Regions from separate parts of the Homo sapiens genome. Here all the other regions are linked to region 4. Evidence: fine-mapped expression QTL. A gene starts in region 4. Each other region holds a variant in brackets. All regions are shown on one strand. Distances are between the middles of the regions.

Evidence for each region. PIP is the estimated chance that this variant, and not a neighbour inherited with it, causes the effect.
Region 1: its variant is fine-mapped to the expression of OPRL1 in whole blood (TOPMed, PIP 0.97).
Region 2: its variant is fine-mapped to the expression of OPRL1 in whole blood (TOPMed, PIP 0.99).
Region 3: its variant is fine-mapped to the expression of OPRL1 in whole blood (TOPMed, PIP 0.90).
Region 5: its variant is fine-mapped to the expression of OPRL1 in whole blood (TOPMed, PIP above 0.99).
Region 6: its variant is fine-mapped to the expression of OPRL1 in whole blood (TOPMed, PIP above 0.99).

The regions. Positions count from the first base shown.
Region 1 is chr20:64,164,377-64,169,376 of GRCh38, forward strand. MYT1 (myelin transcription factor 1) reads left to right here and starts at 76. Exons shown (of 23, transcript NM_004535.3): 1 at 76-363. The variant C/G (reference allele first, on the strand shown) is at 2,134.
Region 2 is chr20:63,884,243-63,889,242 of GRCh38, forward strand. TPD52L2 (TPD52 like 2) reads left to right here. Exons shown (of 7, transcript NM_003288.4): 6 at 4,948-4,996. Among named protein-coding and RNA genes, the nearest start is that of DNAJC5, 8.4 kb to the right of the region's middle. RefSeq lists a silencer at 1,990-2,160. The variant C/T (reference allele first, on the strand shown) is at 3,093.
Region 3 is chr20:64,057,291-64,062,290 of GRCh38, forward strand. It overlaps a transcript of TCEA2 not described here. Among named protein-coding and RNA genes, the nearest start is that of TCEA2, 3.4 kb to the right of the region's middle. RefSeq lists enhancers at 1-479, 480-1,167. The variant C/T (reference allele first, on the strand shown) is at 2,741.
Region 4 is chr20:64,077,108-64,082,107 of GRCh38, forward strand. OPRL1 (opioid related nociceptin receptor 1) reads left to right here and starts at 2,975. Exons shown (of 5, transcript NM_182647.4): 1 at 2,975-3,245. It overlaps RGS19 (regulator of G protein signaling 19), which reads right to left and starts at 2,411. Exons shown (of 6, transcript NM_005873.3): 1 at 2,187-2,411. RefSeq lists silencers at 2,313-2,992, 3,386-3,559.
Region 5 is chr20:64,150,830-64,155,829 of GRCh38, forward strand. No RefSeq gene overlaps it. Among named protein-coding and RNA genes, the nearest start is that of MYT1, 11 kb to the right of the region's middle. RefSeq lists enhancers at 87-766, 767-1,966. The variant A/G (reference allele first, on the strand shown) is at 2,556.
Region 6 is chr20:64,102,747-64,107,746 of GRCh38, forward strand. It overlaps NPBWR2 (neuropeptides B and W receptor 2), which reads right to left and starts at 4,819. Exons shown (of 2, transcript NM_005286.4): 1 at 4,618-4,819; 2 at 1,056-4,176. The coding sequence starts at 4,085. The coding sequence ends at 3,084. RefSeq lists an enhancer at 4,367-4,867. The variant C/T (reference allele first, on the strand shown) is at 2,387.

The DNA.
Region 1 (5,000 bases), 87 kb after region 4:
TTCTGATGCTATACTGTAAATTTATTTCACCTCAGAGAGTAAACAGATATATTGGAGCCCCAAGGGTTCATGGGTAGCGTATTTACAAAGGAGCCTCCTCCGCCAGCCCGTGCCACCGCTGCTAATGAGAGCAGTCATTAAGTAAATGAGACGTCGCCTTTAGCTGGCTTAGGAGTTCGCACACTAAGGGGAGAAGATATTTAATTGAAACCCGCACGCAGGCTTCCCCACATGTGACCGCTGTACGGGAGGCAGCTGCCTTCCCTCTCCTCCCCCAGTCCACCCTGCACCCCCCATGTAAATTTCATGATTGCTTTCCGTGATGTCATTTTGAAAGAGGACAGACAATAGCTGTGGGGAAAGGTAAGTCAACGTTACGTTCTTTCTGACAAAGGCAGATACCCAACGCTTGGCTTTTCCTCTTGGACAGAGACAGGGAGAGGGCGCGCGGGCAGAGTTAATTTCTAAGATGAAGGCTCTGTTTGCAGGAAAAGCAGGTCTGAGGATGGCTTTTTGAAACTGCTCTGGAGGACGGGGGCTTTCTTCTCCTCCCTGGCCTGCCGTGTGCTGTTTTTCTCCTGTCTCTCTGTTGTTCATGCTCCTCTGAGATTCCAGGGGACATGTTGTGCGTCTGACAGAGGAGACATTAGGGGAAGGGGAGCGCATATCAAAACCAGAAACTTTATGCGCATTTCTGGAAGAGGAACAACGGATATGTCTGTGGCCGTGGGACCCAGCAGCCCCGTACCTGGGGAGAGCACTGGCCGCTTAAGCAGAAGACCTCTCTGAAGCAGGGTCTCAGAGTCTGGGGTGTGTCATGTGTGACCCCCACCCAAGGTACTGAGGAGAGGTGCTCACGTGAACGTTTTGTCTGCATGTCATGCATTTCTCAACTTAAGGATCAATATCTAGGGTGCATGCGTCTGTGGGATAGATGTGCAGAAGTAAATATCGGCCGCTCCTCTCAGCCCCTTTTTTCGCTACGTGTCCGTGCAGCTGTGGAGTGTGGTTGTTTATGGTGGTAGTGTAACTGGATTTTTGTATTTAAAACTAAAAATCAGGGTTAGCTAAGAAGTTGAACACCCTAATGCCATTGTCTGTAGTTCTGGGGCCGTGGACTTTGGTTCTGTCTATTGAATTCACTTTCTTCTCTATAAACCAGGAAAATAAACAAGTGCTGGTGGCTTTGTGTTGGAGTGGTGGGTTCTCACTGCTCCTCCTGAGTCACCAAGGGCTTTGCTTGTCTCAGCATCACCTTTGAATCAGTGGACACCATTGGCTGGTAAAGTTGGGTGTTTAATTTTGGAAACCAAACATTTGCGGTGGTGCGGGGGGTTCCGTGGCTGCAGGTGGGTTTGGTCCTGGGCATGGACTCTGTCACGATGATGATAATGGCAGCGATGATTATAATTATCCTTTTGGGAGAGGTCGGTGGAGAATTTTGCCCTTGCAGTTTTTTTTTTTCTTTTAAATCACAGAAAACTGAGGACACCTCTAACGCCAGTGGCTGAGTGCACAAAAGGTGGGAGGGATGTGGGGCAGACCTGGGGGGGCCCACTCGGTGCTGAGGGGTATGCTCTGCCTCTGTCTCCTCTGAGGTGCCAGCAGAGCCTGTCCTGGCCTCACTCTGGCCTGGGGAGTGGGGGTGCTGTATCCTCTACAGGGCTGACTGAGGGAGGCTCCCCTCGGCCCCCAGCCTCCCTGCCACCCCGGGCTCCCCTCCCATTGGTCCTTGGCTGTGATTATCGCCTCCTTCCATATGGCCCTGTTAATTAACGGTAAACAAAAGAGTAAGAGAGCAGGGATTGGAGTCCTGTGGTACCAGCCAGGGTGCTGCTATCAGTAGAGGCAGGACCCTGCCCTGTCTCCCTCGGTAGCTGTTCCTTGTGCAGAGGAGGCTGGGTCAGGGCTTAGAGGGCAGTTTGTTTTCAAAGAGAAGGAGGCAGTCTTATGGATTCTTCTGTCCCGTAGAGACTGAGACTCCTACAGGGTCCCCCCGACCCCCTGGGCACCTGGACGTTTGCCGAACTTCCCAGGGGTACTTGCTGATCCAGGAGCTTGAGCAGGAGCCACAGAGAGTTGGACAAAGAGGCCTTTCTGCTCTGGAACAGCCTCGGCTCTGACCTCCTTGGG[C/G]CATGAATCCCTGAAGAGGGCCTGGTAGCCCTCTTCAGAGACCCGAGGCAGGGGGGCTGCTTCTGTCCAAAGTGCCACTCGAGGGTTTTTGTGACCCTCAGCCATTGCCCACAGATCTGGAGGTAGCCTCAGTTGTTCAGAGCTAATGCTCTGGCCCCTCTTGGAAGATTCTGGCAAAGGCAGTGGTCACCTACTCCCTTGAATGCCCCTGGTGCATGAGTGGGGAAACACTCTCTGAGATGACCCCTTCTAGCCATGTGGGATGCAAAGTTGCTCTGGTCTGGGGGTTGCAGCAGCCTCTACTTGGAAGCTCTGTTAGTGCCGGAGATGTCAGGGAGAGGCTGGCAGAGGGTATGCGGCCACGGGGGTGCATGCTGGGCAGCTCTGGCAGCTGACCAACGGCAGCCTGGATGGTGGCTGGAGCTTGGCCTGTCCCTGCTGTGGATGTGGTGGGCGCTCTCCCTGGTGCTGCTCAGAGACTCACTCCCTTCCTCTCTGGCCTGGGGTCACTGAATGTGCAGACAATGACATTTGTGGTGGTGTGGTGGGTAGAGGAGACCCACACCACTCTGCACTGGGGAGACAGGGGTCAGAGCCTGACTAACTGTCTTCCTGGTGCTGCTCAGTCTGGTGATGTCTGGGCCGCTTGGAATGCCAGTTTGCACAACCCAGTACTGTGCAGAGAGAGCAGGAGAGGTTCCTGAAGACTGACAAAGTGCCAGAGAGAAACCCGGGGCCTCCAGCCGCTGCTCGGTGGCAGTGGGCGGGCTGGTGGGGGCTGAGCTCTTCCTGGACGGACTCAGTGCAAAAGGTGCGTCTACTTTGGAAAAGACTGAGCAAGGCTTGTGTCCACCCAGTCCCTCTGTCGGGGCTCAGGGTGGGGATGAGACCGGGAACAACCAGAACACTTTGGTCAGCACCGGGCCTGGAGTAGATGAGGAGGTAGAGAACTGACCCAGCTGGTGGAACAGGGGTCAGGAGGTTAGCTGTGGGGTGGGTGGGGGCTGCTGGCGGTCACCTGATCTGCGAGCAGGCAGGGTACTGGACGGTCAGCCAGACTTTCATGTTACTCAGGCATCTTGAAGAGTGGATGCTCTGCCTGTCCCAATGCTGGAAGACACATCTCAGAGCCCCTCTTTTGTTGCCTGTTCTCTTGTAGGAACCTGGGCGGGAGAGTGGAGCAGGGTGCCCGCAGGGGCTGGGGGGGCTCTTCTCTTTCTTCCTCTCTCCCATCTTCCTCATCTTAGATCCTCCCCCTCTGCATTTTCCGTGTGAACTCCCTCATGAATAAACCAGAAGTTAGTTGTCTACAGATGTAATTTTAACAGGAATGTTGTGGTGTGAGTTTACAGGAAAATGGTCTTTGGGAACCAGCATCATTAGATTAGTCAGACCGAGAAACGCCGTGTTTCCCAGAAGGGAAGAGAGCAGTGGCTGCCGTGCTGCTCCCCCGTGGGCTTCCTGCTCTTTGGGGACTGCGGGACCCATCCCCGCTCCAGGACAGCCCCACTGGGGAGCCCACTGCCCAGCCCGGAGTGTCTGCTGGAGGCCTGGGGGGTGGAATGTGCTTTCACGGCCTCTTGAGGTTCCCGGCATTTTTCTGTCTTTCAGACCAAATTTCCCCAAACATCACTTTAAAAAACTCAAAACAAAAATGAGCAAGAGGAATTTCACCGGAATTAAAATGTTTTTGATCTCAGGCTTCCACGGAGCCAGCTTCAGAGAGAAGAGATTAATGGATACTTGCAAGTGGAAAGTGTAGTTTGAAAATGTCTTCCTGTTTCTCTTCAGTGTTACTGGAACTAACCAGATACAAGTGTGGAGTCTTTTCTCCCCAGGGTTAATGCCATTAGGAGCGTTCCTTGTGGGAAGATTGGTTTCACCCATCACTTCATCCTTTTTTTTATTTTACAATTTGCACTTAAAAATGCAATGTTATTTTAATCGGGAACGAAAGTAACTCAGCGTGCTTTAATCTGCCCTGGCTGAGTACATCTGCCTTGGCCAGGATTGGAGTCCAGGCCTTGCAGAGGAGAGAGGATGTCGACACAGCTGTGGGTGTCTGTGGTCCTCCTGCCACCCCTTGTCCTGCAGCACCGGAAGCCTCCACTCAGCAGCCCCAACCTTCAAGAGAGTGACTTTGTGCTCTGGCAACTGAGTGTGTGGTTTGCCCTGGGGTTGCTTGGAGTTGATTGGATATGTTCCCTGTGCCTTGGGGTTTATTTGGGACTGTGGCCTGGGAGCACGGCCTGTGCCAGGAGGGTGCAGGTTGGATGGTCCTCAGGAAGTAGGCTGCAGCGCTCTGCAGGAGTCAGGGTGGCCAGGCAAGGTGGGGGTGAGCACTGGGGATCTGGATGCTCGGGAGGAAAGGTGGAGGCACCATATGGCCTGAGCTGCTGACAGATGAGCCTGCTGGCCCCACCTCTCTCTCACGCCTGGCTTCACACCTCCATCGTGTTCAACACTGGTCTGAGGGCTGGGGCAGAAGCCATCTGGGTCCTCTTCTTTTTTTCCATTTTGCTGCCTGCAATCCACACATCAGAGGAGGAGCGTGAGAAGAGGGGGCCCTGGGTCAAGGCGGTTGGAGCCTCTCACCTGGTCCTGGGGGACCCTCCATGTCTCCCTCAGGGACCCACAGAGCTGCCAGTGGCTGACCTGTCCTGCCTGAGTGGGAGGAGAGTGGGAGTTTGGATGCTCCATGGTGCACCAAGGCCTGCTTTAGAAGGCCCTAGAAGGTCCCTGAGACTCTCGGACCGCAAACTGACAGCAGCAGGTGCCTGGGGTGGCCTCCCAGTGAGCCAGAGCCACAGACCCGAGGCGCGTCCCCAATCCCGGTGTGCGCCTCGCTGAGCTAGCTTGTCAAAGCG
Region 2 (5,000 bases), 190 kb before region 4:
ACTGCTGAGCTTTGGACCCAGGAGGGACCCCCTGAGTTTCAGCTGAACTCAGCCTCGCAGGGCTGTTTTCTTCCCGAAAATGCTGGTCTCACCACAGAGCATCTTCAGGAAGTAACAGGTGTTTGTTGTGCCTAAATTATGCCGGCCATCAGGAGGCGTTTGCCCACTCTTAGTGTCCACACTCCCTTTTGAGTTTGTTCAGACCATTGTGGTGGAAATCCAAGGGGCACGTGGAGCCCTTGGCACTGATTGGAATAGCCGTGCACAAGCCAGTCCTAGGGTTTTGATCTGGGCATTTGTTTGTATGGCCTGTTTTTCTCTGGAAGCACAGGGACACGGTCCTGGTTCTCTGTCTGCTCCTCCTTCTCTGATGGGGAGAAAGGCTTTCGCTCTCTGCTCAGTCCTGGGGTTGGCAGCTGACCCGTGTCGTGTAGCCTCAGGGCATGGCTGGCAGTGAGCAGAGTTCCTGTTGCAGTGACGCTGGCACAGCTGTCAGTGTGCCCAGCCACACTGTGCCACGTGTTTGCACGTGTGCCCTGGTACATGGGGCCAGCTGGGGGAGCGGGGCCTCAGGCTGACCTGGGACGAGCCAGCTCGCTCCAGTTGGCTGGCCGTGTTCACGGTGCCCGTGGAGGGTCCTGTTTGCTGGTGTGTCTTGCCCTGCTTGCTCCTCCATTTATGTTTGTAGTGGTGGTGGGAACTCTGACGTCTGGAGCCCCTGGTGTATCCCCATCATCTCCCCAAGCAGTCACAGGTGGTTTCTGAGGTCTGGGCCCATTCACCTCGAGTTAGAGACTGAGGTTGAGAGCTCACTACTTCCTGAAAGTGAAAATTGGGTTCTGGGAGGTTTATGTCATGAGTTTAGGGCTGGATGAACCCCGGCGGACCCCTGCTAACTCTTGGGCGGAAGCCCCTCTGGACAGCTGCCCAACGCCCGTGTCCATGATGGGCCTGTCCCAGGGCAGCCCCGGTCTGTGAGGCCTTTGGTGTGCCCTGGGGCATGGGTGATGGGGATGGGAGGAAGGGAACTGGATTCAGGTCAGAGTGGGGGTTTACAGCAGGGTCAGGTCACCGTCTGACTCCGTGGTCTCAGATGAGGCATCGGCCCTCTCAGGACCTCGGGCGAGTTGAGTGTTTCTCAGTTCTTCAGTGGCTCCCTCCATGTCAGAGTGGGCCTGGCTGCAGTGAGTGGCAGCAGCTGCCCTTGGACACACAGGTTTCCAGGTTGGCGTCTGTGGGCACGGATGGAGCGCAGAGCAGAAATGCTCGGCGCCAAGGGTGTCCCACATCCTCCCACGGTGCGTGTGCTCCCTCAGCTGACGTGATTTGGGGAACACGGGCCGCTCTCGTTCTGTGGAGCTGGCCAAGCCCAGCTGTCATGCTGTGGCACATTTCACACCTTTGCGCTGCTGGATGGGGCTGGTTGTGCTCCAGGTGCTGTGGCTTCTCCAAACAGGTGTGCCTTGGGGCATAAGGCGTGGACAGGGCGTGGACCCAGGGGCCTCTTGGGCACAGCCGTGAGGCTGAGCAGTTGCTAGTCATGATCTTGCGAGAGCCTCCTGTTGAGTCAGGACTTGAGGAGACTGGAGACAGTGCTGCTGTCCCCGGTGGTGTGCGGACTGGAGGAGCCGTCCTGGAGGGTCTTCCCCTGCTGGGCCTGACTGAGCACGAGCAGGGGGCCTCCCCTGGGGCTCCCCGAGGAGGGCTGTGAGTGGGTGCTGGCCTCCCTTGCTTACACTTCGTTTCCTCTTCTCTCCTGCTGCCACCTTCCAGGGCTCATCCATTTTCACACTCCTTTAGGTAAGGCTGAGCCTGGACACACCTGTGGAAGACTTTTCTCTGAATTGGGGCAGGGTGGACTCCGGCAGGGCCCTTGGGCGGCTGTGCTAGTAGAGGGCAGTGAAAGTGGGATCACCCCTTCCAGGACAGCAGTGCCAGCCAGGTGGTTGCTGCATCTCAGGGAACAAAGCAGCAGCGTGGGATCGACGCAGAGGCCCCCCGGAACCCCCCGGCCCTTCTGTGTCCCCTCCTCGTGCTTCCCTTCAGGCTCACAGACCGCCTGCTGCCGGGTCTGTGAATAACTGGCCTGGCGTCCAGGCCTGAGTTTACTCCTGAAAAGGAGCTTTTTTTTTTTTTTAGACGGAGTCTTGCTCTGTCGCCCAGGTTGGAGTGCCGTGGCGCGATCTCGGCTCACTGCAAGCTCCGCCTCCCGGGTTCACGCCATTCTCCTGCCTCAGCCTCTCCGAGTAGCTGGGACTACAGGCGCCCGCCGCCACGCCCGGCTAATTTTTTGTATTTTTAGTAGAGACGGGGTTTCACCGTGGTCTCGATCTCCCGACCTCGTGATCCGCCCGCCTCGGCCTCCCAAAGTGCTGGGATTACAAGCGTGAGCCACCGCGCCCGGCCTTTTTTTTCTTTTTTTTGTTGGAGTCTCGCTCTATCACCAGGCTGGAGCACAGTGGTGTGATCTCGGCTCACTGCAACCTCCAGCTCCCTGGTTCAAGCGGTTCTCCTGCCTCAGGCTCCTGAGTAGCTGGGATTACAGGCATGAGCCACCACGCCTGGCTAATTTTTGTATTTTTAGTAGAGACGGGGTTTCACCATGTTGGCCAGCATGGTCTCGATCTCCTGACCTCGTGATCCACCCGCCTTGGCCTCCCAAAGTGCTGGGATTACAGGCGTGAGCCACTGCGCCGGGCCCTCAAAGGAGCCTTTTCACGTGGGAGGGCTGTGCCGACTCTCACCACCTTCCTGTTCAACATCTGTCCTGTTTCCTTGTTTTCCTTCAGATGGAGTTTTGTCTTGTTTACTACCCGAGAGCCCATAGGTGTGCCTCCCAAAGGGCCCTCCTGCAGACCAGAGCAAGCTCCTCTAGGCCAAGCCGGGGCGCCGCCAGCACGTGCCCTTCTGCTGGAACCGGGAGGTCTAGAGCCAGGCCCAGAACAATCTGTGATTTCTTGTGTTTTTACTTGACTTGGTGGTTTCTCTTTTGCCAAAAGGTCCTTACTTGACTTCTGAAGGCTGTTTGTACCAAATACTTTTCAAAAGCCCAAGCCTGGTCTCCTCACAGCTTCCTATGGCAGTGCTCTCCC[C/T]CCTCCCAGTGCTATGCGCTGGGCAACTTGGGGTGCCCCCCATGAGGCCAAGGGAGGACCCTGGGGTCGAGTTTCCTTCGGGGGCATTGTGTGGAGGGGCAGGCAGCTCGCTCCAACTGCTGGGAGTGGGGGAATCCCAGCTCTGCCCATCCCTGCCAAGTTGGGGTTGTGTGTGGATCTTGGTGTTAACTCTTGCTTCCTTCTCTGCTTCTGCCATGCTTCCAAGCAGCAGCTACTCCATCCGCCACTCAATAAGTATGCCAGCCATGAGGTAATGTATGCCTGCTCGCTGCGGCTCCAGAGCCGGGTGTCTCTGGTGGGGGTTGGGGCAGCTCCCGCCGGTTACACCTTGCCCTTCCCATATTCCTGGATTAATTGAGGACTCCATTCCCTTGGCAACCTCTGATGACTAAGGGCCGGTAAAAACCCCCTCTAGGCTGACGAGGAAGAGCTGGTAGGGGGTCAGGCTCTTCACCTGCAGCCTCCAGAGGAGATCCTTGTGTCAAACTGGGCCGTGTCCTTTCCAAGTCCTGACCCTGGCTGCCTGCAGTGGGTGGGGTGGGGTTCGAGGGGCTCGCACACAGATCCTGGCACTTGCCCTGGTGGGCTGTCACTCAGGACACTTCACGGTCTCAGCCTTCACGGAAACACCCAGAGCTGTGGTCCTTATTCTGTGCCTGTCAGGCACCACCCTGATTCTCAGGATTCTGTGCCTGTGCCGTGAGGCACTGCCCTGATTCTCAGGAGAGCCCAGAACTGTGGTCCCTATTCTGTGCCTGCGCCGTCAGGCACCGCCCTGATTCTCAGGAGAGCCCTGTTCTCCTTGTGGGGACTCTGGCTGGGTGTCGCAGACGTGCTGGCCTCTAGAGTCCCCGGGCCTGGGAGGGGTATCTGTTTGTGTGGGAGGGACTGAGTGGGATGGAGCTGGCCTGCTTTCTCCTCTTGTCTCCTTATCACTCTGCTGTCCCAGAAGTGTCCTTGGTCTTCCGTTTGCTTCTCTGAGAGATGTGCATGAAGAACTGCACAGACTTTTCATAACTTCAGTACGAGAGCCCAGGGTGTCCCTGTAGGGGACAGCAGAGAGGGGCCGACAGCCCCCCAACTGCGCAGACTTTTCATAACCTCAGTACGAGAGCCCAGGGTGTCCCTGTAGGGGATAGCAGAGAGGGGCCGACAGCCCCCCAACTGCACAGACTTTTCATAACCTCAATACGAGAGCCCGGGGTATCCCTGTAGGGGACAGCAGAGAGGGGCCGACAGCCCCCCAACTGCGCAGACTTTTCATAACCTCAGTACGAGAGCCCAGGGTGTCCCTGTAGGGGATAGCAGAGAGGGGCCGACAGCCCCCCAACTGCACAGACTTTTCATAACCTCAGTACGAGAGCCCGGGGTATCCCTGTAGGGGACAGCAGAGAGGGGCCGACAGCCCCCCAACTGCGCAGACTTTTCATAACCTCAGTACGAGAGCCCGGGGTGTCCCTGTAGGGGACAGCAGAGAGGGGCCGACAGCCCCCCAACTGCACAGACTTTTCATAACCTCAGTACGAGAGCCCGGGATGTCCCTGTAGGGTATGACAGAGAGGGGCCGACATCTCCCCAGCTGCACAGTCAAGGGGTTTCCAGTTGCCTTGTGTGACGTCTGGACCTGTCCCTGTGGTTGTTGGGCATGGCCGACCTCACTTTTGACCTGGGGAGTCTCCGGAATGACCTGGCTGTCTCACAGTTTTGCCATGAGATCTTGGGATGTTGTTAGGGACCCTTTGGAGGCTGGCCCTAACCCTGAGGCCCTTCCGAGTTAGGAGAGCAGCACAACCCTCTCCTCTTGACACCGACACTCTTCCCTCTCTCTTTAAAGGAACTCTGCGACCTTCAAGTCGTTTGAGGACCGAGTTGGGACCATAAAGGTAA
Region 3 (5,000 bases), 20 kb before region 4:
TCAGGGTTTAACCGAAACCGAACATTAACCGTAGCCCTAACGCGGCTGAGGGATCCAGGCCTTGCCTCTGGGCCGGGTGAGAGACAGACACTCGCCAACCAGTCCGCAGTGGCTCCCCGTGTGTGCGAGGCTCCCGCCTGCGTGTGTGCGTGTGCATGTGTGCCTGCGCACAGGGGAGGGAAAGTTCTTCAGCTGCCGAGGGCGGGAGTAGGGGCTGGAGCAGCACCCTGCGGCGAGGCCCCACAGGAGAATCGATGGTTCTGATGCTGTCAGCCTCTGGGTGCAAATTCTGAGGGCCCGGGAGCGTCTGGCGGCCCTGAGCAGCTTGCTGGGGAAGCTCCGTGGAGGAGGAAGTCCGGAGGTCGGTAAGCTCCAGGAGGGGTCTGCTGGGGGGCGAGAATGCTCTGAGCAAGGTCCCAGAAGTCCAGAGCTCCTGAGGGACCCGGGACCAGGGGCACTGGGGAGTTTCAGGGTTGGTCGCCGCCACAGCCCTCACAAACGAGGCCACTCTCTAGGACTGGCCACCTTCTCACCTCGGCCACTTCACAGTCCTGGGGGGCAGCTGTGGCTCTTGCTGGGAACCACCTGGACCTCCCTGGGGCTTGGGGGTGGGGTGGTGGTGAAGTGAGGCCCACCCGTCCGTGGCTCACTCCTGCCACCTAGAGGCCACTGTTCCTCACAGGCTCTGGGGCCAGTCACCTGCCTCTGCCCGGGGGCGGGACCATCCCACCGGATTGCAGGTTCCCTGATCACCAGGATGGGCCTACACCTCTCCGCCTGCAGTAGTTGCTTCCACGCAGGACTAGAGCATGTCAGGGTTCGGGGCTCCTGTCATAGCGGAGTGGCTGCGGCCCGCAGGTCAGAGGCACCCGACCTCTTCTGCTAACCCCCTTCCCTGCCTGTCCCGTCCGCTCCTTTCTCTCCATCACCTGCCCCTGCCATGAACCAGGCCACCAGTGACCCCATCCACACCTGTCCGACCAGGCTCCCCACGTGCCCTAATGCAGCCCCGTAGGCTGGGCCCACGGCTGACACCCCTTCCTGAGGGATCCCCGACCTGCCAGCCGTTGTCCTTAAGACGCCACAGCATCTTGACCTCCCCGTCTGCAGCCTCTGTGGGCCTCCACTGGGACCCACTGAGACATGTCAGGCTCCTCACGAGCTCTGTCTTGTGTGGCCATGCCCAGGGCCCCAGGACGTAGAAGACCACCTGGCATCTCATGGAGGAGGAAACAGGGCCCAGAGTGGGACCTCCACTCAGGCTCAGCAAGGGCCGAGTCCCAGTTCCTGGAGTCCTAGTTGAGGCCCCTCCTACACAGAGCACAAGGTGGAATTCACGGGGTCATAAAGGCAGCCAGTTCTACCAACACACAGTTATGCAAATATTTTCTTAAAGTGTGATATCAAAACCCAAGTGCTTCTTTACCAATCTGCTGAACAAGATGTGACTCACTGAACAGCCTCTGCAGTCCCAGCAGCAGCGAGTGTGGGGGTGCGAGGCAGTTCCCATCTGTGCCGGGTCAGCCACGGGCCCAGCTGACCAGATTTGGTTCATGGCCTCGTTCATAACTGAACGAACGACACCTTTCTGCTAGAGGTCGGTATAAAGGAGATGATGGGCCGGGCACGGTGGCTCACACCTGTAATCCCAGCACTTTGGGAGGCCGAGGCGGGTGGATCACCTGAGGTCAGGAGTTTGAGACTAGCCTCACCAATATGATGTAACCTCGTCTCTACTAAAAATACAAACATATTAGCCGGGTGTGGTGGCGCATGCCTGTAATCCCAGCTACTTGGGAGGCTGAGACAAGAGAATTGCTTGAACCTGGGATGCGGAGGTTGCAGTGAGCCAAGATCGTGCCACTGCACTCCAGCCTGGGCAACAAGAGTGAAACTCTGTCTCAAAAAAAAAAAAAAAAAAAAAAGGAGATGATGGTTTCTTCCCACCAGTTTATTTTCTGTCAGGGGTTTGGTCTCTGGGTCTCTGACCCCCTGGATTGTTGAGACGCCTCGCACTGTTCCCTCCCATCTTGCCCGACCGCCCCCCACCAGCTCCCAGGCCCAGTATGTCTCTGTCCCACCCCATCGTCTCTATAGGCCCTGTCCTGCAGTGGGTTCTGTCCCTCCCTGCAGCTTGGTAAGGTTGTTGAGGCTTCAATACACACTCCAGACCACATCCCTCTCCCTCCCAACTCTGGGACACTCTCTGCACCTCTGAAAAGAAACTCCCAGCCCTTCTTGTGCCTCTCCCTTCCTCTGGGCACCCCTTGTTCCTTATCCATCCTGGCTGGCCTGTGGCCTGTACTTCTGATCTGCACACAGGTATCACAGAGGACAGAGACCCCAGGGCCCCAGCCCCTGGTGGGGGCGGGGAGTGCAAGGGGGCAGTCGTCTTTGTTCTCGACCAGCTCCCAGCTCCCTAGGTAATGCTTTAAGAGTTACCGTGCTAGGGGATCTTTGTGGCTGAAAACATTCAGATGAACCAGATATTTAAAAGCATCCCTCATGCAAAGTCCCTCCACTGGTTGGGCCGGCCTGGGGAGGGTCAAGGCTGGGTCTCTAGTCTGGTTTTCCGGGGGCGTCTGTGTGCACTCCTTCCCCAGAACCTTGCGCTTGTCCATCCCAGGGAGAAATCAGGTGGGGAGCGGCCTCACTGCTGGCTCCTTGATAGTGACTTGCTCCAGAGGTCCGTGCTGATACCCCAGACCCCGCCCCACCAACACTTCAACTGGGACTGCGG[C/T]GTATGCACAACTGCACAGCCTCCTCTGGCAGCTCCTTGATGCTTCTGGGACGTTGACCCTCTCTCCTTTGCACCTCCACTCTTAGGAACTTGCAGCTCTCTGGGGTTAGTTCTCCTCTGTGCTGTCTGGGCTGCACCTCCTGCCCAGGAGGGGCCTCTCTGTGCTGCAGCCCTTACCAGCATCTCAGGATCTGCAGTCCTGATACTTGGAGGTCTCCCCCCCACCCCCAGCTTGAGGGCTGGCTTCCTTTCGGTGGTCTTCAAATCAACTCACACTCGGCCGTTGGAGAAGCCTATGTGTCTGGCCAGGCAGGCTCCATGGATGTGGCCAGTGTCTTTGTGGACGGTGGGAACCAGCTTTGAAACCCTGGCCGCCCGGACCTCCGAAGCCAAACTTTCTGGGGTTCCTGCACAAGGGCAGTTCCAGTGTGGCTTCTACAGGACCCTGACCAGCTCCTTGGTCTGGCTGTCAGCCATTGAGACAGTGGTTGAAGGCTGGGTGGCTCTAGCCTCCCCTCGTGCCTCTGATGAGGCTGGACCCTTCAAGTCTTCATATATGCCCAAACCATGGGATTCTGACCACGAGGACTTGCTTGGATGGTCTAGGCTGGAAGCTATGTCCCCAGCTCACTGTGAGGGGCAGAATCAGTCAGTATGGAAACCGTGTTCATCTATTAATAATAATAATAATATAATATCGCGGGGCCTCTGTCTTAGAAAGGCTTTGCTCCTCACAAGGAATTCTATGCTTTTTCCCTATGATTGAGCTTTTTTTTTTTGCGACGAGTCTCACTCTGTTGCCAGGCTGGAGTGCAGTGGCATGATCTCGGCTCACTGCCAGCTCCGCCTCCCGGATTCAAGCGATTCTCCTGCCTCAGCCTCCTGAGTAGTTGGGACTACAGGCGCATGCCGCCATGCCCGGCTAATTTTTTTTTGTTTTTTTGTATTTTAGTAGAGACGGGGTTTCACCCTGTTGCCCAGGCTGGTCTCAAACTCCTGAGCTCAGGCAGTCCACCTCCCAAAGTGCTAGGATTACAAGCATGAGCCACCGCGCCCAGCCTGAGTCTTTTTTTTTTTTTTTTTTTTTTTGGAGACAGTCTCACTCTGTCACCCAGGCTGGAGTGCAGTGGCACAATCTGGGCTCACTGCAACCTCCGCCTCCTGGGTTCAAGTGATTCTCCTGCCTCAGCCTCACAAGTAGCTGGGATTACAGGCATGTGCCACCACGCCCGGCTAATTTTTTTTTTGTTGTTGTTTGTTTTTGAGATGGAGTCTTGCTCTGTTGCCCAGGCTGGAGTGCAGTGGCATGATCGCCGCTCACTGCAAGCTCCGCCTCCTGGGTTCATGCCATTCTTCTGCCTCAGCCTGCGGAGTAGCTGGGACTACAGGCGTCCGCCACCACGCCCGGCTAATTTTTTGTATTTTTAGTAGAGATGGGGTTTCACCGTGTTAGCCAGTATGGTCTCGATCTCCTGACCTCGTGATCCGTCTGCCTTGGCCTCCCAAAGTGCTGGGATTACAGGCATGAGCCACCATGCCCGGTCTAATTTTTGTATTTCTAGCAGAGACAGGGTTTCACCATGTTGGCCAGGCTGGTCTGGAACTCCTGACCTCAGATAATCCGCCCACCTCAGCCTCCCAAAGTGGTGGGATTACAGGGGTGAGCTACTGTGCCCAACCAAGATGAGTCTCTCTCTCTCTTTTTTTTTCTTTTGAGACGGAGTCTCGCTGTTGTTGGCCAGGGCTGGAGTGCAATGGTGCTATCTTGGCTCACTGCAACCTCCGCCTTCCGGGTTCCAGCAATTCTCCTGCCTTAGCCTCCCAAGTAGCTGAGATTACAGGTGCCCGGCACCACACCTGGCTAGTTTTTGTATTCTTTGTAGAGACGGGGTTTCACCATATTGGCCAGGCTGGTCTCGAACTCCTGACCTCAGGTGATCCACCCGCCTGGGCCTCCCAAAGCGCTGGGATTACAGGCATGAGCCACTATTGCCCGGCTAAGATGAGTCTCTTAACTGACCATATTTTCCTTTTCATTTTGGCTGCGGGGAAGCTCAGTTATATGTGATTAGTGCCACAGACAGCCCAAGAAATGCTCAGCCCATTCCACCTGCCACCTGGCCTCATAGTTCGTTGGCCTGAACTTGAATGACTACAGGCTCCTTGATCCACACCCTCCCCCAGGATTGTGCCCTCTCCAGGAAACCACCCAGCATCTGCATTACTGGGGAGCTGCCAGGCAGTGGTGGGGATGCTGGCC
Region 4 (5,000 bases):
ACAGCAGGGCTGGGAGGGGGTCCAGGATCATTGAGGAGGGAGCTGCAGCAGCTTCTGGCCCCTCCTCCCAGGCTGGGCCCCAGATGAGGCCCCCACTGGAGGTTCCGAGACACCCCCATCCGCTCACTCCCTGGGAAGCCGGAAGCCTGGGTTCCTCTTTCTTGGTTTCCGGCTCCCAGCCCCTCCCAAAGGGGCCCCGAGAGTCTGGGGCTACCAACTGGTGCGTGCGGGTGGTGGCCAGACTGGCTTCTAGGGTGTCTGGGGTGGGGAGTGGGCAGAGTGGCTTCCCACCAAGAGTCCAGGTCTGTCTGTGGGTCCCAGAGGTCTCAGCCAGGGGCAGCAGGCTAGACCTGCAGCAGTGAGGATTTAAGTGGGACTCAGGCTGGACTTGCTGAGGGTGTGGGAAGGGGGGCAGGGCCCCGGTGAGGAGGGACATGCCCCCCAAACATGGTTCTTTGGTCCTGCTACCTCCCACCCAAGACTTCCCTCCCTCCTTGCCCACTGCCTCTAGGCTGTGAAACTGCTGTGGAACCAAGGCCCTACCACAGGGTGCGCCAGCCAGGGAAGTGGGGGTGGCAGGGGTGGGGGGCACCCTGCTCCCCAGTCGAAGCCTCGGAGTCCCTGAGGGGGGTGTGGTGTGGTGCATGTCCCTCCCAGCATTTGGTTGCACCGTCTGCAGGGGAGGTGCACCAGGAGCGCCAAAGCTGTGAGTGGCCCTCATGCCACCTAAGATGCCACTTCGAATCCCAAGTCTCCTTGGGCGATGGTACAGGGGGGCCAATCAGTGCCCCGGAGGCAGTTGTGAACACCTGCGCCCACTTCTGCCCAGGGCAGGGAGGGGCCTCCGTGCACATCCGCCACCCTCCTCATGTGCCGCCACCCTCCCTGGCCAGGAAGCTCACAACTTGATTCTACTTTATTTTCTCAATCTTCATCCCCCCGCCACGCCTCCCCTAGCTCGTGGCCTTTGAATGCTTGTTTCTGGCTGGTTGGCTTCTCTTGGCCTCCTGGGACGGTGTGTGAATGGCCCTCAGAAGAGACAGTGCTGGAGTTCTGCACTCTTAGGGCCCCCAATACCCCCGAGGCCTGGGCATGCAGAGGCCACTGCCCTGGCCCAAGTCTGGGGCAGGTGCAGCATCCCCTGGGACCTTGGCCCCTCACCACCGGCCCAGTTTCCTCTGAGACTGGGGGTCCCACGGGCTCCTAGCAAGTAGATGAGGAGACCGAAAGTAGCCCTGCAGCTGGGCTTTCTTTCAGGGGTCAAGTTTCTAGGGAAAGGAAGGGGCGTGGCAACCTGAGGTTTGGTAGCTGTACCCAGACGGGGCTGTCTGTGGCTTCCCCAGGCAGCAGTTCTTCCTCCTCTCTGTCCCCACCCAGGGTCCTCCCCCACACTCTAGCACCCCTGAGACTGTCCCCCTGGGCTACCATCTCCACCCCAGCTCTGAACTGGAGGAGGGGACGTGTTTAGGGGTGCAGGGCCGGGGTGCTAGGGGCTGCATTTGCTGCAGAGCAGGGAGCCAGCCCCTTCTTTCCCAGTTGCAGGCCCTGGACCTGGTCACCTGTCCCTGGACCTGGCTTCCTGTACCCTTCTCAGGTCAACTGGGGCAACCCATGTCCCCAGGCTACCCTCCCCCCGTCTCTCCTGGGGGATACAGAGTCTCAACTAGGGTCCTCCTGCTTGTCAACCTGGCATTGGGGACCCCCTTCCCCAGCCTCCCAGGCTTTGGCCCCCAAGTCTGGGATGGGATAGGCTGGATAGGCGGCACGTCTGCTCTCTGGGGATAGAGGATCCCTTGGGAGTGGCTGCCGCTTTGCTCCACAGAAGGAAAAAGAACGTCCCAGAGCCTGCCCAGTCCAAAAAAAGAATAAGAAAATGTGACAATCCCAGAAAAAAATGTCATAACCTTTGGGAGGGGGGTTGAAGAGGGGCTCCATTCTCAGTCCTTAGCTCCTACCCAGGGCCTTTCCCATCTGCCACCCTCCACATCTGGCTGGTGGGCGAGCCCTGGCCTGGCCCCTCCAGGGAAGGCCAGCTCTCCCCACCTCTGAAATGGTGGTGGTGGCCCACCCACCACGCTCCTCTCTCTGCTGTTAGGGTCCAGTCTGGAGAAGCCTGTGTTCTCCTCCAGGTGCCTCTTTCTTCAGCCTCTGACGCCCCCACCCCTACCTCAAAGCTCCCTACTCACCAGCGACCCAAAGGCGGGGTGGGGGCAGGAGGGGCCAGGTTGGGTCTGGGCCCCACCCTGGCTGCCGAAGGGGCGTGCACTGCAGCAGCAGGGACTCAAGTCAGACGGCAGGAGGGACTCCTGCGGCGCTCTGGAGGGAGGCTAGCGCCAGGAGCCCCCGATCGGCTGGGGCCGGGGGCGCAGCGCCTCCCCTACAGCTCGAAGGGCTGAGTGGCTGCCAGATCCAGCGGGGTGGGGGCGGGGGCGGACAGGGTGTCCCGCCCCGGCCCCTCCTCACCGGGCTGAGAGGGGGAGGGAGACGCGGAAACCTGGGTTCTTCCGGCCCCCACCTTTGAGCAATCACTTCCCCAGGCTTTGAGCTCCAGAAAAAGGGGAACCCGGCTGCGGCGCCCCCTCCCCCACGCGCGGGGGGCGGGCTCCACTTCCACTGCGGCCCAGGGTCCACGTGGACCTGGCGGCGGGAGCCCTTGGGGTTCGAGTCCCGTGCGCCGGCTCCCGAAGCTCCCGCCCAGCACGGTCCCCGGGCCCGGGCCGGGAGGGGCAGGGCCGCTGTCCCCGGCGCTGCGCGCGCGCACTCACCAGCCGCGCTCCCGAGCCACTCGCGCCGCCGCCGGCCCGCGCGCTCCAAGGTCCGGCCCGACAGTCGGGGAGGGGGCGCGGGGGCGCAGTGCGCAGGCGCCTCGGCGGCACTTCCCCAAAGCCAGGGGCCGGGACTTCCTCGCGCCGGCGGTCGCCGGGCCCGCCCCGCCCGCCGCGCCCCGCCCCGCGCTCGGCCGGCTCCGCACCCCACCCGCCCCGCCCGCGCGTCGGCCCCCACAGTCGCCTGGGGGTGGCCCGGAGAGTCGAGGTGCTCATAGTGGAGCCCTGGCTCCCGGGCGGACGGAGCCGCACGGTAGTAGATGGGGGTGTGGCCGTGGCCCCCGACTCTGCTCGGCGGGGCCGTTCCTGCTTTGCCATCCGTGTGGGACTTCCACGACAGTGGAGGCACGAGAGCTGGGCCCCATATGCTGCTTGCCCAGCTTGGGAAAGAGGAGGCTGCTGCAAAGGACCGATCGGCGGGTACGCCAGCCCGGCCCACCCCTCGCCTCCGTGAGCCGCGTCTGTAAAACTGGGTTAAGAGCCGCCTGTCTGTGCTGTGGGGGGTTCCCAAGGAAGGGGGAGATTCCTGTGCTGCGGGGCTGGGGAGAACTGGGGGTGCGGGTTCTTGCATCCGGAGTCATGCCGAATGTCTCCTGTGGGGCCTGGCAGAGTCCCTGCTGACCCGTGTGTCCCAAGATGTCCTAAAGCTTAAGGCCACACTGTCCCCTTTGCCACGAACGCCCTGTCCCTTTGGCCGACTCTTCTCATCCTTTATGACTCGGTACAGACGTGGGTTAGGCTTCTCATCGCAGCATGCTTTGGCCCTGTGTCAGGGTGGCCCTGACCCTGCTCTGGAAGTGTCTGCAGAGCATCTGTGCCCCCCGCCCCTCCCCTGGCCCGGCTGTGTGCAGCTCCTGTCCTCCCCAGCACAAGCACTCCACCCGGATAGTTCCCAGTGTCGGGATCTGTTCATAAAATGCCTTCCAGTTGCACAGGTCAGGTGCACACCTTACACCTTCACAGAACTCTGAGGGGTGCAAAGGCAGCTGGAGATTCTACTTGTATTCCTCATTCAACGGACAAGTATCAGTATCTGGGTGCCCCTGTGGGCCAGGCAGTAGGACCAGAAGCCAGCAACATAGATCAGCCTGGATCTTATGCTGGGGGGCGCAGAGTGAGTTGTGGGGAGCAGGCAGGGAAGGCCTGGGTGAGAGGGGGGAGGGCTGAGGAGGGGAGGGTATTGCGCTGCTGAGCGGGGGCGGGGGCCCGAAGGGGGAGGTCAGAGGTCAGAGGGCCCTGGAGGACAGACAGGCTGCCTCTCGAAGCTGTACCCAGAACCCTGTGACTGCCATGTTGTCAGGCCAGGCAAGGAAAGGCAGGGGCCAGGAAGCCCACAGGGACAAGAGGCAGGCTGCTACTTATTCAGCCCACATAACACTCCTGAGCGGTGGGCACAGGTGAGGTCAGGGAAGCTCAACGAAGATGGGCCAGCACCTGGCCCAGGCCACACACAACCAGGCTGACCCCGCTGAGCCGGCCTGTTGTCTCTGCTGTGGGAAAATGCAGCTGTGGGCAGCTGGCAGGGGGTGAAGGTCAGTGCCCTCCCTGCCCCCTCGGGTCACTCTACAACCCCCCAGTCATTCCCCCGTCTCCTCTGGCCCCTTGGGCCTGCTCTCCACCGCCCTGGCTTCTGCCTCTCGGCACACAGCATCCTGAAGTCCATGGGTGGGGCCAGGTGAGCTGGGCAGTTGATGGCGGAGCTGGGATTTGAACCCAGGACCCTCTGCGCCCTGACAGCCCTCAATATATTGGGCTTTGGACCACATGCCTTCCTTCCCATAGAGCTTTCTACAGGCAGGCGTCCCTCCAGGCCCCATTCCCCAGCCTCCTTTGCACATCCAGCACCCCCTGCGCCTTTTCATGGGGATCAAAGGGCCCGAGTGCCGGCCTGACCCTGGTGCAGTCACTGAGGTCACTGTCTTGCTGGCCTTCTCTGGGTGCTGGGTCTGCTGTGCCTGTCTCTGCCCCTCTTCCCTCTTGCCTGTCTGATGCAGAGTGACCCATCCCCTTTGGAGCACTTGCTGCTGTGGGGTACTGCACCAAGACCCTTATTTTAAAGATAAAGAAATGGAGTCTCAGAGAAATGGTGAAATAATATGTGATTCTCCCAGTAGATGAACTCATTCTAGGCACTCAGTCAATCCCCAAGACACAGAATCCTGGGGTCCAGGCTGC
Region 5 (5,000 bases), 74 kb after region 4:
CTCTCAGAGAAGAGGTGCACACCTAGGGGTCTGGCTAAGGGAAGGGGAGGGTGTCAGTACAGGAACTGCAGGGACTAGGTCAGGCTGGGTACACAGAGGCAAGGACAGGGTCGTGAGGCTGGTGCTTGATGAGAAAAGCTCAGTCTAGACATCTGGGCCTAGGCCCCAAGAAGAGTGGGGATCAGGCCTTCATGGGTGGTGTTGGAGAGCCCTGAACAGGATGTGACTTGGTCTTCCCTGTGGAGAACTCAGGAGACTAGCTGGACCATTCAGGTATTTAAGGAGCAATGTCAGTGTGCCAGGAACTCTCGGGGAGCTTATATCCCAGTGGAAGAGACGGCTCACCTCTTTGAGCTTTCTGGCAAAGTCAAGGGTGCTGAGTGCTGTGTCAGGGCCATCCAAAGGTCCTGAGATGAGTGGGACTTGGAGGAGGTCAGTCAGGACCAGCCTCGTTGTGGGTGTTGAAACACAGGAGTATCTGTGTGGAGGAGGCCTGGGGGGCTCCTGGCAGGGAGCGGGGCGCAGAGGAGCACGAGGTCCTCAAGGTTCTCAGTGGTGGCATCAGGAGTGCCCAGGTCAACTTGTCCTGGGCAGAGGATGGGTTCAGAAGAGAACATCGGCTGTGTATCCTTTGTATCTTCCAGAGGTACACAGCCCTCCCCAGCCGCCCTCCAACCTCAGGACAAAGTGTGGGTGTGCGTTTGGCTCCTGCGTTCCCCTGTCTCCTTTGTCCACAGGATGCTCTTGGCTGCCAGGAGGTTCCCACTCCTCATCTTTCCAGGCCCGGGTCAGAGGCACTGAAGTCAGAAACAGAGGTGGCAATTCCAACCTAAAAGCACAAATTACAGACAAGTCTCCCTCCTGCAGGTTTCCATTTGCATCTGGCTTTTGTGTGGCACTAGAAGAGATCAGCTTTTTGCAAGCATGGGGCTGATGAACGCATTTGCACAAAGGGAGACGGCGGAGTAGCAGGAGTTTGCAAGCTGCTTCATTAACTTGGAGCCAGTGGAATGTCTGGGATCGTCTGTGATTTGGAAACCGGTGGCAGAATGTTCCCGCGTTTCTGGTCCTCATCAGTCAGGTAGGTTGAGGGGAGCCCAAGACGAGCTTGTGGCTGCAGCGAGGGTGCAGGATGGGTACACATCTCGGTGGTCCAGCTGGGTCTCAGCTACCTTGAATCTGACCCACGGGCTTTGTGTGGTCTCAGGGCTTGTGTGTGTGTGTTTGGTCCGCTGTGTACCTGGTGTGCACACATTGCCTGTCACGTGGGTCTCTGTTGGAAGCTCTTGCCCGTCGGTTCTTCATGTGGTGCTGTCGGACATCTACTGGTCTTTGAGCCTCCAAGTCTGTGTTGGCTGCTGCAGGTCGGGGCCTGGGACTTTGTGTACCAGTGACGTGGCCCCACTGAGGCCCCGTTCCTGACTCAGCCATGCTGTCATGGCCCTCAGAAAAGATCTATCATTTCTTTGATCCTGTAAAACAAGTAAATTCAGTCTTCCTGTGAGGCACGGTGATGATTCACTGGAATCATCCCAGTGTGTAAGGGTACTTCCTCCTGCCGGGACTGCCAGGCGGGACGGCTTCCTGCAGACTCAGAGGGTCCAAGGCAGGGTTTCCAAGCAGACTTTGCAGCTGGATGAGAGGAGGGGTCAGCGCACCTGCTTCATACAGAGACTGATGTGCCTGGGCCCAGGCAGGCCCGTGCTCCAAGCACCCTGTTCCTCAGGTGGGACAGCCTCATCTTCTTTTTCCTTTTTTTTTTTTTGAGATCGAATTTCACTCTGTTGCCCAGGCTTGAATGCAGTGGTGTGATCTCGGCTCACTGCAGCCTCTGCCTCCCGGGTTCAAGCAATTCTCCTGCCTCAGCCTCCCGAGTAGCTGGGACTACAGATGCACAATGCCATGTCCTAGTTTTTATATTATTAGTAGATACAGGGTTTCACCATGTTTGCCAGGATGGTCTTGAACTCCTGACCTTGTGATCCGCCCGCCTTGGCCTCCCAAAGTGCTGCGATTACAGGCGTGAGCCACCATACCCAGCCTGACAGCCCCTTCTTTAGAGCCGGTGCCTCGGGCTCCCAGGCTCGGGGTGGGGCTCACACCCCTCCTCTCATGATCTTGCTTATCCCTTGGGGTGGGGGGGGGACCTGTGTCCTCCCAACCCCAAGCACACAGCTGTCACCCCAGGTCACCTCCTCTGCCTTTCTCCCAGCACCCTGCATGCTCTGGCCTGGGCAGCCCCCTCCCCCTGTGCCCTTGGTGGCATTTGCATACAGGTGCCCTTGCAGCTGAAGTGTTGGGGCAGGGCCAGCAAACCCACGCCCGAGAGGGCCAGTGGCTCTTGGCACAGGTGGTGGGACAATGGCCACTCAGAACACGGCTGCGCTCCCCTGCCGCCTCCTTGGGGCTCACACCTTGCTCGGTTTAGTCGCTGTCTGAGCCTTAGTTCCTGGTCATAACTGGGCTGTGCGGGGCTTGGGGCCTCATATGAGGAGGAACTGATGGCCTGTGTGTGCTGGCAGAGGAGGCGGTGTCATCCCGGCGGGTCTCTGCAG[A/G]TCCACTGCACAAACACTGCATGTGTGTATGTGCAGTGTGTGTGTTTATGTAGTGTGTTTGTGTGTCTGTATATATGCGTGTGATGTGTATATGGTGTGTATGTGTGTTTGTGTTGTGTGTATGTGTGTGGTGTGTTTGAGGTGTGCGTGTATTTGTGTGTCTGTGTGTGTGTGGTATGTATATGGTGTGTATGTCTGTGTGTGGTGTGTGTGTGTGTCTGTGGGTCTGTGGGGTCTGTTTGATGTATGTGGTGTGTGTATGTGTGTGTCTGTGTGTGTGTGTGGTGTGTATATTGTGTGTATGTCTGTGTGTGGTGTGTGTGTCTGTGGGTCTGTGGGGTCTGAGGTATGTGGTGTGTGTGTGTTTGTGTGTGTCTGTGTGTGTGTGTGGTGTCTATATGGTGTGTATGTCTGTGTGTGTGCCTGCATGTGTGGGGTGTGTGTGTGGGGTCTGTTGTGTGTATGTGGTATGTGTGTATGTGTGTGTGGTGTGTATATGGTGTGTATGTCTGTATGTCTGTGTGTCTGTGCATTTGTGGGGTGTGTGTAGGGTCTGTTGTGTGTGGTGGATGGAAGGGCCTCCCGGGGCTCTTGGATTTGGAGGGCCCACGCTGCTCTGGCCTGGGAAGGTGGGGTTATCTGGAGGGTATATTAGGCTGGGGTCCTGGGGAAGGTTCTGGGGCTCTAGGCAGAGCTCCTGGTCGGGTGCAGGCACATGGGCTTGTTGGGCAGTCCCAGGCCTTCCAGGCTCCATGGCCCGTGTTCCCTGTTGTTCTGGTGGGTGTGCCCTTTAGGCACCTGCCCAGGGTCCCCTGTGCCATCCCAGCTGCCCCAACACTGTGTGCCCCGGCTCTGCTCCTGGACCCCACGCCGCGTGCCCCGGCTCTGCTCCTGGACCCCACGCCGTGTGCCCTGGCTCTGCTCCTGGACCCCACGCCGCGTGCCCCGGCTCTGCTCCTGGACCTCCGCATGCCTCCTGCTCACTCCAGGGCAGAAACCTCCTGTCCTGGCTCTGCCTCCCTTTGAAGCCTAGCAGGGGACCCCTCTGGCCCTGGGTCTGTCCCTCCTGAGCTCTCATTTGAGGAAGGCACCAGTGAGGCCCTTCTTTGGCTCAGATCCAGCCTTTGGTGCCAGACGGTCCAGGGCGTCAGTCCCAGCTTTGTCTGGGAGCTGCGGGCCCTCGACCCTTCTGAGCCCACCTACAAGTTGGGAACAACATTGTGGACCCTCAGGGGACTAAAGGATGAAGCTGCCCTGTGCCCGGCACCAATAGGAGCATCCTCGTTCCTCCTCCTCAGGGGCTGGACCCATAGCTTGAGTGGCAGTGGGGACATCCAACCTGGCTTCCTCAGTGGGGTTTGGCCATGGAGGTGCTCAGGGTGTGCTTGTTGGAATGATGGGGGATCTCGCTCTGGGATCTGTCTCCTAGACCCTGTCCAGGGCTCCAGCTGCCCCTTCCCTCTCTGGGCTCCCAGCTGGGATGGGAGGGCCTTGGGCACAGGCTGTAGAGCCCCTGTGGTCGGCTCCCACCCCTCCCCAGAGTGCTGCATGTGAGGATGGGGACTGCCTCACTCAGGAAGCCATCCTGTCATCCCAGAGTGTGGTGTTGGCCTCGAACTGGCTCTTGATCTCCCATGTGGGGCATGGCTGGAACCATCCCAGGGTCAGTGTGTCTCAGGCTCCAGCTTGGGCATCTTGGGACAGAGACTGGAGGGGTGTTTCTCCCAACATGGCCAGGCCAGCGTGGCTGTCATCCTTGGACATCAGTCAGCAGCTGGCCAGTGCCTACCGGTTCCACCAAGCTCCATTCTTGGGAATGCAGGGCCCGGACATTCAGTCCAGAGACTTTCCCTCCCGGGGCTCTGCTGGGGGTGCCCCTCCCCATGAGCCCATCTTGACATTTGTGAGCCCTGCTCTGTCTGCTAATGAGCGATCTTCACCAGTCCAGCCTGCCATGGCAACCGCCCGCAGCCTCGCTCTCTGTCCAGGCACCCGGTAGCTTTATCTCCGAGGCCATCTGTTCTGGGAGCACAATTCCAAAGCCATTTAAACAGAGCCTGGAGCAGGGCAAGGCGCTGGGCCCTCTGTCCTCACACGTGTCTGTGCACACACTCAGGCACACACACGCACATGCACATGCTGATGTGGTGTGACCCCTGCAGGGTGGAAGGTGATGACAGGGACAGTCAGGGTGCCCCACCGGCTGCTCCCTTTTCCTGCTGTCACCGAGCCGGTTCCTGGGCACCCTGGTGGTCGGCCAGTCTGTGTCCTCCTCTCTTTCTCTGTGTTCCTCACCTCTCTGTCCATCTGTGTGTCTGAGCCGGCCTGGTTTCTGCCTCACCTCTCTGCCTGTGGGCCACCTCTCCCTCTCCATCCTTTGTCTCCTTTCCTGCCCCTGTCTGTGTCCGTCTCTGTGTTTAATCGCCTTGACCCTGGTCCCTGGAC
Region 6 (5,000 bases), 26 kb after region 4:
CTCAGTCCTGCCTTGCGCACATTCCCACGCCCGGGCCTCTCCTGCCCGCCCCTCGTTGTTCACTTGCTCATTACGCCTCACACCTGGCTCTGCCGCGGGCTTGGAGCGGGTGTCTGGGAAACACAGTCTCACTTGTCTCCTCAAGGGGCTCCGGGGCACCGTAACAGCGTGCAGAGCGCAGTCAGGCTGCCGTGCTGCTGCTTTGCGAGGTGTGACTGCAGCGCAGCCAGGAAACAAATCCAGGGACAGCTTGTTCTTCCTGCGGTGTCGGTGTTGGTGGTGGCTTAAAAATTGCCCACAGACTGGGCTCATGCCTGTAATCCCAGCACTTTGGGAGGCTGAGGCAGGAGGATCACTTGAGCCCAGGAGTTTGAGACCAGCCTGGGCAACATAGTGAGACCCCGTCTTTCAAAAAAAAGAAAAATTTGCCTGGCGTGGTGGCGCACGCATGTAGTCCCAGCTACTCCAGAGCCTGATGTGGGGGGATTGCTTGAGCTCAGGAAGTCGAAGCTGCAGTGAGCCGTGACCCCACCACAGCACTCCAGCCTGGGCAGCAGAGTGAGATCCCTTCTCAATTAAAAAAAAAAAAATTGAAGCAAAAGAAAAATAAACCGTCTACAGCCCCCGAGTGTGGGCTGGACATGTGACTTGCTTCCAATGCACAGAATGTAGTAGAAGGGAAGGCAAGTGGCTTCGGAATCTTGGCCTCAAATGTATTGAGGCTTCCTCTTGGCTCCCCCCTGGGTCGCTGGCTCCTCCCTGGGTCGCTGGCTCCTCCCTGGGTCGCTGGCTCTGGGGGACCCAGTGCCATGTTTCGAGGACACTCAGCCCCTGAAGCATCCATGTGTTGAGGAGCAGAGGCCTCCTGCCCATAGCCATGGAAGGAAGACTTCTCAGAAGAAGATACCCCAGCCCCTGCCCAGCCTTCAGAGGGTCAGGGCCTGGGCCAAGGTCCTGACTGCAACCTCAGGAGAGACCCTGAGCCAGAACCACCCAAAAAGCCACTTTAATTCTTGAACCACAGAAGTGAAATAGTAGAAGTTGTCTTAAGCGGCTAAGTTTTGGAGAAATTTGTTATTCAGCAACAGATATCTAATACAATGTTGTCAGGGAGGATAAGTGGATGGAGATGGCCGTGGCGTGTTTGGCTGGCTAGCACGGAGGAGGGGCACTGCTGCAGGCCTGAGCCGAGTGGGCTGGAACGCTGGAGTATTTGGTGGATGGGTGGAGGTGGGCATACACCCTGGGACACCTCGTGGGGCGGTGAATGGTGGGTCCTGTGTGCCGGCTGGACAGATTGATCAGAGCTCTGGGTCATGAGGACTGAAACCAACCCAGAACACTCACACCTCACTGCCAGGCTGGAATGCCAGGCATGGAACCAGCTGAGAGCCATGGGGCCAAGAGTCGGGGCCTGGCCACAGCACACCTGGGACCAACCCCTGGCCCCTCCCACCTGACAGTCAGCGGTCTCTGAACTGCCTGCATTTCATTACCACCCCTCACCCTGCCCCCACCAGAGTTTCAGCATGCAGCTCCTGCTGGCTGATTACAAGCCCCTGGCCACACCCCGGGAGAGAGAGTTCCAGGTGCCAGCCTGTCCAAGTGATGGATGGTCCCTAGGCTGTGGTGGCCCAGAGGTCCTGGCAAAAGGGCCCTGTAGCCTCTAGTAAAGTATGAGAGGAGCATCGGCCACAGCAGGGGTGTACAGGCCATGGCGAGGACCGTCGGCCACAGCAGGGGGGTACAGGGGAGCACAGGCCATGGAGAGGACCGTCAGACACAGCAGGGGGGCACAGGGGAGCACAGGCCATGGTGAGGACTGTCGGCCACAGCAGGGGAGCACAGGCCATGGAGAGGACCGTCGGCCACAGCAGGGGAGTATAGGGGAGCACAGGCCATGGAGAGGACCGTCAGACACAGCAGGGGGGTACAGGGGAGCACAGGCCATGGAGAGGACCGTCGGCCACAGCAGGGGAGTATAGGGGAGCACAGGCCATGGTGAGGACTGTCGGCCACAGCAGGGGGGCACAGGGGAGCACAGGCCATGGTGAGGACTGTCGGCCACAGCAGGGGGGTACAGGGGAGCACAGGCCATGGAGAGGACCGTCGGACACAGCAGGGGGGCACAGGGGAGCACAGGCCATGGAGAGGACTGTCGGACACAGCAGGGCGGGTACAGGCCATGGCAAGGACCGTCGGCCACAGCAGGGGGAACACAGCAGCACAGGCCATGGCACATGGGCACGGCGGGGCTGGGCCTCCTGCTGGAACTCCACTTGGGCTTCAGGCCACGAGAGTGGATTTCTGGGTCTCATGCGGTGCAGGTGTCCGCCTTTGCAGCAACACAGCATCGCTGCTGCCTGAGGTGCCCGCACTTACCACC[C/T]CCCGGCCCCATCTTGGGGAGAGACTATGTAACGTGGCCCAGGTCAAGATCACAGTTCAGGTTCCCTCCCCTCCCGACCACTGTCATTAGGGATCCTGAGTCCCAGAGCCTTCCAAGGGGCTTGTCCATCTGTCTGTCTCTCGTGGGTAAGTGGGCCCGGGATGCTTGCTGTGTGGGGGCCTCTGCCAGGACCTGGATCCCTGCTGCTGTCCACCCAGGGGCTGTCCAGGAAGCAGAGACATGGGAGGTATATGCCCACGGCTGTCTGTAGGTCTGGTGGCCAGCGTGTGAGGGTCTGTGTCTCCTTGCGTGGAGAGGACAGCACTGGGATGTGAACAGGCCGGGCGTCCCCTGAAAGAGACAGCCGGAACTGGGTGGGGGTGGGCGTGATGATGGGGGTGATGGTGGGGGTGGTGGGGGGGGTGGGCGTGATGATGGGGGTGGGGGTGGGGGTGGGGGTGATGGTGGGCGTGATGGTGGGGGTGGGGGTGATGGGGGTGGGCGTGATGGTGGATGTGATGGGGGTGGGCATGATGATGGGCGTGATGATGGGGGTGGTGGTGGGGGTGATGGTGGGGGTGGTGGTGGGGGTGGGGGGGGGTGGGCCTGATGGGGGTGTGGGCATGATGATGATGGGCGTGATGATGATGGGGGGTGATGATGGGCATGATGATGGGGGTGATGGTGCCCAGGCCCTTCAGCACCGCAATATGCTGCGGAAGTTCTTCCGGAAGTTGTCATCTAGAAAGGCGTAGAGGAAGGGGTTCAGGCACGAGTTGGCGTAGCTGAGGCTGGTGATGACGTAGGACATACTGATGACCAGTGGGGTCTGGGGCAGGTCCGTGGTCAGGGCCACGACAGAGGCCAGGTGGAAGGGCGTCCAGCAGAGGAGGCACACGGCCAGCACGACGAGGACCAGGACGGTCACCTTCCGCCTGGCCTTGCCTAGAGCCTTGGCTCCAGAGCGGAGCCGCACGGCCCGCAGCCTGCGCAGGAGGTCTGTGTAGAGCACACAGATGGTGCACACGGGCAGCACGAAGCCCAGGACCAACGTGTAGACACGGCTGGCCTTGAACCAGACCTGCTCGGGCCACGGGAAGCTCAGCCCACAGCTTGGGACCTGCAGCTCGTTGCTGTAGACGCCAGCGAAAGAGAAGAAGGGCAGAACCAGGACCGTGACGCCCAGCCAGACACACAGGCTGGCGACCTTCGCCCCCCGGTAGGTGCGCCAGGGCATGTGGCGGGACCTCACGGTGGCCAGCACCACCAGGTATCGGTCCACGCTCATCACGGCTAGGAAGTAGATGCTGGAGAAGATGTTGTAGTGGTCGACGGCCAGCACCAGCTTGCAGAGCAGCTCCCCGAAGGGCCAGTACTGCAGCAGGTGCTCCGCGATGTTGACGGGCAGTACCAGCGTGAAGAGCCCGTCGGCGACGGCCAGGTTCAGGATGAACACGTTGGTCACCGTCTTCATCTTGGGCGCCCTTAGGATTACAAGGATGACGGCCGTGTTGCCAGTCAGCCCCACAGCACAGATCCCGGAGTACACGGCGGGCAGGAGCACATAGAGGAACGGCAGTGGCTCGGAGAAGGTGGCATTGTGGCCAGTGCCATTGTCCTGAGAGACGTTGGCACCCATCGTGGGGAGGGAGAAGGAGCCCCTGCTGTCAAGGGGCTCTGGGTGCCCAGCGGCCTGCATTGTAGCTGGGACCGTTGACGATTTGCGCCCTGGGCAGGTGGGAGGTGCCTTGGAGTTGGGTATCTGGTTGGGGGCCTCCTTGGGCTGGATTCTAGGAAAGAAAAACAACCAGAGACTTTGAGATCCGGCCGTCTGTTAGGGCACAGCCACTCCAGGTTCTCTGGCAGAGACTGCGGCCACTTTGCCAGGTCAAGGACATGGGGCCAGAGGGAGCCTGGTGGGGTGTGTGGGGGCCTCCTCCCGCCTCTTCCTGGTGAGACTTCAGCAGATCAGTTCCCTCCTCCCGCAGAGAGCAGCTGCTGGCCACCCTCCTGGGAAGAGATGTGGATCCGTCCCTGCCCCAGCAACCCGCAGATGCACGGGCTGCGTAGAATCAAGCGGTCCCTTTGGAAACACACCTCCCAAGCTCATCTCTGGCTCCCTTGAATCTGAAGGTCCTTCCCTCAGGGGTCTTGGAGTCTGCACCCTCCCTCACACCCTCCCGAGAGATGCTGCAGACCCTGCTGGTCCAGCTACTCTTCTCTCCACTGACCTGTCCAGTGCTTCGAGTCCAGAAGTTGGTAGCCTTGGTGTGTTCCTGGTTTTGGCCAGTACAGGCAGTCGCAGGGATGGAGGGCGAGGTGTGGTCCTCACTGACAGACCTCCAGCTGAGGTTTCAGGAGTTTCAAGACCTGCCCTGCTGGCTGCCTCAGCCCCGGCTGCGAGGTTCCCAGCCTGGTGTCAGTGCTGATGCTGGTGAGGGAGGGAGGCGGATCCCCCTTGCTGACGTGGAGCCCGGAAGGCAGGCCCCACCTTCCCCTGAGCTGCAGTAGCGCCTGCAGTCGGCTGTCCCAGGGTCTCCTCAGCATTCACTTACCCAGGCAGACTCCTCAGTGGGCGGCTGAGGCACGTGTGCGCCTGTGTGTCAGGAAGGGA